2 linked regions of the Homo sapiens genome follow. The protein of the gene in region 2 purifies or fractionates together with the protein of the main gene of each other region. This does not show direct contact. Each region holds a gene or a part of one and is shown on either strand. Other genes may lie near its edges.

Region 1 (3,500 bases), on a different chromosome or scaffold from region 2:
ACCTTCTCCACCAGGTCGGCCCGCTTCTTGGCCAGCTTGGAGCCCTCCAGTGGCACGAAGTACAGGTCGCTGCGCGCGCACGAGTTGAAGCCGCGATCCAGGTGTTTGTTGAACCTGCCGGGCGTGGAAGCAGCGGGCGCTCAGGCGGTGCGAGCTGCCCGATGGAGCCCGCAGCGCCGCGGCCCCGGCGAGTGCTTGTAGCCCCCGCCTCAAAACCACCCCTGCAGGCTGTGAGCTGCTGCGGGCCTCACTGGCCACTAGGCCTGGACGGAGGAGAGGGGCGTGCTTTTCTAAAACACTACACCAGCGCAAGGCCCCTCCCTGCTACTCCCTCTCTCGTCGCCGCCTTGTCGTCGTCCCCTTTCCAGGCCCACCTCCGCCCCACCTGGCCGCTCACCTGGCAGACTGACTGGCATGGCTGGGTACATCTACCACCTTGGGAGGGGGCGAGGGGCTGCGGGCTGGGGGCACCGGGCTCTCGGGGGTCTCATACTCCTCAGCCGGCTCCTGTTTGATCTGCGTGGCGCTCAGGGGCGGCCCTGAGGCAGGGGCCGCAGGTGGTGGTGGCAGCGATGGCAGGCCTGAGGGCCCCGCAGGTGGCAGGGGCCCAGGTCCCACGGTGGGCGAGCCCGGCTTGAAGGTCCCTGGGCCTGCAGGTGGCGAGGTTCCTCGATAGCCCGGTGGGGTCCCCGTTCGGAAGGAGGGAGGCGACCCGGGTTTGTATCCGGGTGGGGTGGCTGTCTTGTAGGCCCCCGGGGACGGGGCTCTCTTTCCGTACGGTGGGGGCCCAGGTGGGGAGGCCGTTTTGTAGCCTGCTGGCGAGGAAGCCACGGTGGCAATGACCGTGGAAAGGGTAGCCGAAGAGGTGGTGACCGTAGGCACCGGTGGGAAAGGGTAGGGCGCCCCTTGAGGGCCCTGGGAAGGGGAGGGGTGTGAACATGGGTAGGACCCTTGAGAAGTGGAAGAGGAAGAGTTGGAAGAGGAAGAGACTGGAGGGCCATTGGGGCCTGCTTGGCTGTAGGACACCTGGCTGTGAGGTGGGGGCAGGTGTGCTGGCCCTGGTGGGTAGGGCCTCAGAGACCCCAGGGAGGGAGACATGGCGTAAGGGTGTGCGTGGTGGGAGCTACCGCCCTCCAGTGGGTGGGGAAATGCTCCAGGAGGAGGGGGCCCAGAGTTTCCGTGATGCTGCTGCTGCTGCTGCTGCTGCTGCTGCTGCTGCTGCTGCTGCTGTTGCTGTTGCTGGTGGTGATGGTGATGTGTTGAGACTGGTGGGTGGGCGGTGGACTGGGCCCCAGTAGAGGGAGGGAAGGGGCCTGGATGGGCATTGCTGTTGGCTAAGAGGCGGCCATAGGGAGGAGGTGGTGGGGGACCCTGGCTCCACACAGCCTGGGATGGGAGAGAAGGCTGAGTATACTTGGGGGGCTGATTGGAGACAGAGAGGCTTGTTGGGGGAGGGAAAGAGTGGGGGTAGCTGGGCAATGCCTGGGAAGCTGGGAAGGGGGAGGCAGAGGAAGAGGAGGAAGAACTGGAAGAGGAGGCTGCTGCAGAGCTACTACTAGAGGATGAATAAGGAAACCTCATGGGGGGCGCTGGAGCAGAAGAGGAAGCAGGAGGCAGAGAGTGGGGTGAAGGAGCCAGAGTTGGGCCCTTCTCTGGGCCAGGAGGAAGTCCACCCATACCCTGTCCCATGGCGTGGGGAGAGGGCAGATGACCAGGTAGTGGTTGGGCCCCCAGGCCAGGGGGAGAGGCTGATGCATTGTTGAGGGGTCTCAGGGCAGGTGGGGGAGGCAGGTTCGGTGTCACATGGGGGAAGTTGGCTGGTGGTGGAGCAGAAGGTAGGTTCCCACCACCCACTGGAGTGGTAGGCGGCTTTGTTGGGGGAGCACCACTAGCCCCAGAGCTTGATACTGAAATGGGAGTAGTGGGTGGGGGGTGCTGCTTACCCCCATTAGGGCCCCCCACTGATGAGGCAGCCCCTCCCCCCTTGGGACCCATTGGGGGTCCAGACAAAACTCCACCAGTGCCCCCAGGATAGAGCTGTGGGTGAGGGGGAGGGGCCCCAGGAGGAGCCTGGAACATTCGAGATGTGGGGGGCTCCATGGGAGCATGATATCCAGTGGGTGTCACAGAAGGATGGGGTTCAAAGCTAGCCTCTGGCTGTCGAGGGGTGCTGTCTGGCGGTTGAGGGGAAGGAGGAAAGAGTGGAGGTGGGTGGTAGGGGCGGGCTGGGCCCTGGGACAGGCCAGAAGATGAGTCAGAGTCATTCTCCACACTTCCAGGGCTGTAGATACTGGGGGACGTGCTTCGGTTGTCCTGGTCGATATCCCTAGGGTCGCTGCTGCCATCATCATTAAGGCTCCGCCCGTCCAAGCTATCCAGATCGGAGGGAGACTGTGGCCGAGGGAGTTCCTGCTGTAGAAAAGGGAAGACTCATTTTTTCTCTTTTCCTTTCCTGCTTCCCTGAGATTTGGGGCTCTCTTGCATAAAATCATTTCCCCTCACAGCACACTGTTGTACTGTGATGTGGTGAGTACTCTTGCTCAAGCCCACCTCTTACCATCTGGGGATTTCTCACTTTCCTCACATTCTTGGCTGCTCCCTAGCAGCCAGTCTTGTTTCCCGCCTGTAAAACCCTATTCCTTCCTCAAGGATCCATCTCAAGCACCTTGTCTCTACCCACAGCTGACTCCAACTCCCTGTCTTCCACCATCTCATAACCACCACTTTAACCATCCTCCATCCCCCAAGCCCTTGGTTTTTATACCACTTCTGGCCGGGCACAGAGGCTTACACCTGTAATCCCAGCACTTTGGGAAGCTGAAGCGGGCGGATCACTTGATGCCAGGAGTTCCAAACCAGCCTGGCCAACATGGTGAAACACTGTCTCTACCAAAAATACAAAAATTAGCCGGGCATGGTGGCTCATGCCTATAATCCCAGCCACTCGGGAGGCTGAGGCACAATTGTTTGAACCCAGGAGGCGGAGGTTGCAATGAGCTGAGATTGTGCCACTGTACTCCAGCCTGGGTGACAGAGCGAAACTGTCTCAAAAACAAACAAACAAAAAAAAACAATAAAAAAGAAAGACCACTTCTGCATTTTCCTTAAGATTTATTTGTTCCTCCGACTAAGACTTCTCACCCAGAGACTAGAATCCCCCAACTCTTCTGGTCCCCTTTGGCCCTGCCTGGTCATCTGGTGGTCTGTCAAAGCTCTAAGAATCTCTCTGGCATATTATAGACAGAACTGCTCTCATAAGCACTATGATCTGGCCTTTCTCTTATGTCCCAGGAGAGATCCAGCTAAGAATAGTGAGCATAAGCAAGTCTGAGAAAAGAATGGTCACAAGATGGGTCAGGATGGCGACAAGGGTTTCCCACCTCAGTTTTGGTCTTTTTTGGTGCATTGGTCTCCTCACTTTCACTCTCTGAGATCTCCTCACTCCGACCCTGCTTGTTGACCTTTGGGGTGGAGGCTTCCTCTACTCGGGCCTTCTGTTA
Region 2 (3,500 bases):
TCGCCAGGTGGGAGTGCAGTGGCGCAATCTCGGCTTACTGCAACCTCCGCCTCCCGGGTTCAAGCGATTCTCCTGCCTCAGCCTCCCGAGTAGCTGGGACTACAGGCATGCACCACCACACCCAGCTAAGTTTTGTATTTTTAGTAGAAGCAGGGTTTCACCATGTTGGCCAGGATGGTCTCGATCTCTTGACCTCGTGATCTGCCCGCCTCGGCCTCCCAAAGTGCTGGGGTTACAGGCGTGAGCCACTGTACCCAGCAGAGGGTCCTATCTTACAGACAGGAAAACTGAGGCACAGAGATGTGGTCAGTTACCAGATGACAGAACAAGCTCTGCTCCCAGGCCATGTGGGTTGAGCTCATGCTCTGAACTGCAGCCCACGGACTCACTGGCTTCACAACTGGCTTCCCCGCTCAGCGCCAACAGGGCCGCCGGCACCAGGCCCGGCCCTAGGAGGCAGCGATTCACCTGAGTCCACCGCACTCCCAACCCTGGCGCCCTGAGCCAGGCTCTTGGCTGCACCTTAGGCTCTAGACACCCGCTGGGGTCTCAGCCTGTGGCAGCAACCCACTCCAGGAAGCCAGTGAGGACCCAGATGCATGCAGGCCTCCTCTCACCTTCCTCCCCACCACGCTGGGGCAGCGCCCCCTACAGACCACCTCACGCTTCAGCATGCATGTCCTCGGGAAGCCTCGCTCGAAGAACACACTCCTCCACCAGCACAGCTGCTGCACACACACTTCCCTCTGCGACTGTCCCAAAGGGAACCTGCCCATCCCTCTCATTTAGGAGACAACTTTTGGGGGCACCTGCCCAGTCAATATGACTCCCACCACCTTCCTCTGAGAACTGCTCTACTGCCACGCTCAGGTCCATGGGGCGAGGCCCCAGAAGCCAGTTCCTACTGCATAACCTGCCCCTCCCCAGGGCCATCACTAACATCCCCAGGCGGCAATCACTAAGACGGTGGTGACTGAAACTGGTTCTGGTTATTAGAAACTCGGTGAGCTGGCCGGGCGAGGGGGCTCACGCCTGTAATCCCAGCACTTTGGGAGGCCGAGGCGGGTGGACCATGAGGTCAAGAGATCGAGACCATCCTGACCAACATGGTGAAATCCCGTCTCTACTAAAAATACAAAAATTAGCGGGCGTGATGGCGCGTGCCTTAGTCCCACCTACTCGGGAGGCTGAGGCAGGAGAATCACTTGAACCTGGGAGGCTGAGGATGCAGTAAGTCGAGATGGCACCACTGCATTCCAGCCTGGTGACAAAGCGAGACTCCATCTCAAAAAAAAAAGAGAAGAAACACAGTGAGCCTTCACTAAGCACCCCTTGCTCTGAGCCACGGCTCCTCTGTCCTCGGTAACTCAGACTCCCTTGTCGTGCCCTCTCACTATCCAGACACCAAGGGGCTGCCTGCATCTTCCTCTCCTCTTCCACCTCTGCCACCTCCCCAGGGGACTTGGCAATCACGCCTGTTTACCTGGATTCTTGCATCTCCAGTGATCCCCTTCAATCACCCTCAGCTCCCCTCAAGCAGCCACACACCTGGCCTTGTCAATCCCAGAATGGCTCCGCCTTGGAGATTCCCCATCCTCTCCAACATTCCCCACTGTCCATTCAGTCTGCCCCACTGCACCTTCAACTTCCCATCCTTCAGTTTCCCTCTAGCACATCACCCTCTTCCCAACTTCCTCCTCCACCCTGCCCAGACCCCAGGGCCCGTACTTTGCCCTCTCCTGTCCCAGCACAGCCCCAGGTCCTCATCATTCCACCACACCTTTACCCTGTGGAGCCAGCCAGCAGCCTCTTCTCCCCTCACTCCCAGGCCCCAGCTCTGGCAAGGCCTTCCAGCATGGGGAGGCCCAGGCGAGAGGCTTGCTCTGTCTCCAGGATACAGTGCAGCGGCACAATCACTGTTTACTGCAGCCTCCTCAACCTCCTAGGCTCAAGCAATCCTCCCGACTCAGCCTCCCCAGAAGCTGGGACCACAGGCATGTGCCACTATGCCTGGCTTTTTTTGTTGTTGTTGTTAGCCAGACTGGTCTCGAACTTCTGGGCTCAAGAGATCCTCCTGCCTCGGCCTCCCAAAGTGCTGGGATTACATGTGTGAGCCACCGCGCCTGGACTGGAGCAACTTTTCTCCACTTTCCAAGGTTCTTACTCCACTCTTCCTCTCACAGTCCTACAGCAACAGGGTCAAAAGAGGACTCAGGCACAACACCCCCATCTCCCTGCCTCCCCACCGAAGGGTATAACTGCATCAGATCTGGAAGCTACTCCTCCACCTCCCCAAAAAGGCCATGCCAGCAAGCATTCCTCTCTCCCGGCACATCTACCTGGCCCGTTCCCTTCAGTGGAACATGCCCAAACCTCATCTACTTGGAAAAGCTAACCCCTCCCTCAACCCTGCCCTCTCTTCTTGCTCTCCCTCCAGCTCTGGCTGGTAACCTTAGTTTGTTCCTGCATCTCACTAAGCCTTGAAGCCCTCATCTATAAAATGGGAATCACAGGGAGGTTGTGGGGCAAGCGCAGTGGCTCACACCTGTAATCCCAGTACTTTGGGAGGCCAAAGTGGGCTGATAACTTGAGGTCAGGGGTTTGAGACCAGCCTGGGCAACATGGTGAGACCCTGTCTCAACTAAAAATACGAAAATTAGCCAGGCGTGGCAGTGTGCACCTGTAATCCCAGCTGCTTGGGAAGCTGAGGCAGGAGAATCACATGAACCCGGGAAGCGGAGGTTGCAGTGAGCCGAGATTGCACCACTGCACTCCCGGCTGGGTAACACAATGAGACTCCATCTCAAAAAAAAAAAAAAAAAAAAGGGAGAGGTTGTGGGGATTCAATGAGAAAATGAATTGTCAACATGCTATGCCTAGAGCCTGGCACACATAGGTACTTGACACATGGGAGCTGATATCACAACCCCCAATTCTTTTTTTTGAGACGAAGTCTCGCTCTGTCGCCCAGGCTGGAGTGCAGTGGTACAATTTCGGCTCACCGCAACCTCCACCTCCCAGGTTCAGGTGATTCTCCTGCCTCAGGCTCCTGAGCAGCTGGGATTACAGGCGCCTGCCAGCATGCATGGCTAATTTTTTTTTTTTTTTGGAGACAGTCTCGCTCTGTCACCAGGCTGGAGTGCAGTGGCACGATCTCGGCTCATGGCTACTTCTGCTTCCCCGGTTCAAGCGATTACTCCTGCCTCAGCCTCCCGAGTAGCTGGGATTACAGGCATGTGCCACTATGCCCAGCTAGTTTTTGTATTTTTAGTAGAGATGGGGTTTCACCATGTTGGTGCTGGCCAGGATGGTCTTGATCTCTTGACCTCGTGATCTGCCCGCCTCAGCCCTCCCAAGTGCTGGGATTACAGGCGTGAGCCACCGCACCCAGCCTAATTTTTGTATTTTTAGTTAAGATGGGGTTTCACCATGTTGGCTAGACTGGTCTCGAACTCCTGACGTCAAGTGATCTGCCCACCTCAGCCTCCCAAAGTGCTGGG

Evidence for each region. The genes of interacting proteins can lie anywhere in the genome.
Region 1: the proteins of SETD1A (region 2) and ATN1 purify together in Homo sapiens (affinity purification with mass spectrometry, with the first as the bait; one large-scale study listed by BioGRID). This does not show direct contact.

What each region holds. Positions count from the first base shown.
Region 1 is NC_000012.12:6,934,459-6,937,958, reverse strand, and holds part of ATN1 (atrophin-1), read right to left. Parts: intron 3,495-3,500; coding exon 3,381-3,494; intron 2,413-3,380; coding exon 398-2,412; intron 115-397; coding exon 1-114. UniProt on the Homo sapiens protein: Transcriptional corepressor. Recruits NR2E1 to repress transcription. Promotes vascular smooth cell (VSMC) migration and orientation. Corepressor of MTG8 transcriptional repression.
Region 2 is NC_000016.10:30,974,754-30,978,253, reverse strand, and holds part of SETD1A (histone-lysine N-methyltransferase SETD1A), read right to left. Parts: intron 1-3,500. UniProt on the Homo sapiens protein: Histone methyltransferase that catalyzes methyl group transfer from S-adenosyl-L-methionine to the epsilon-amino group of 'Lys-4' of histone H3 (H3K4) via a non-processive mechanism.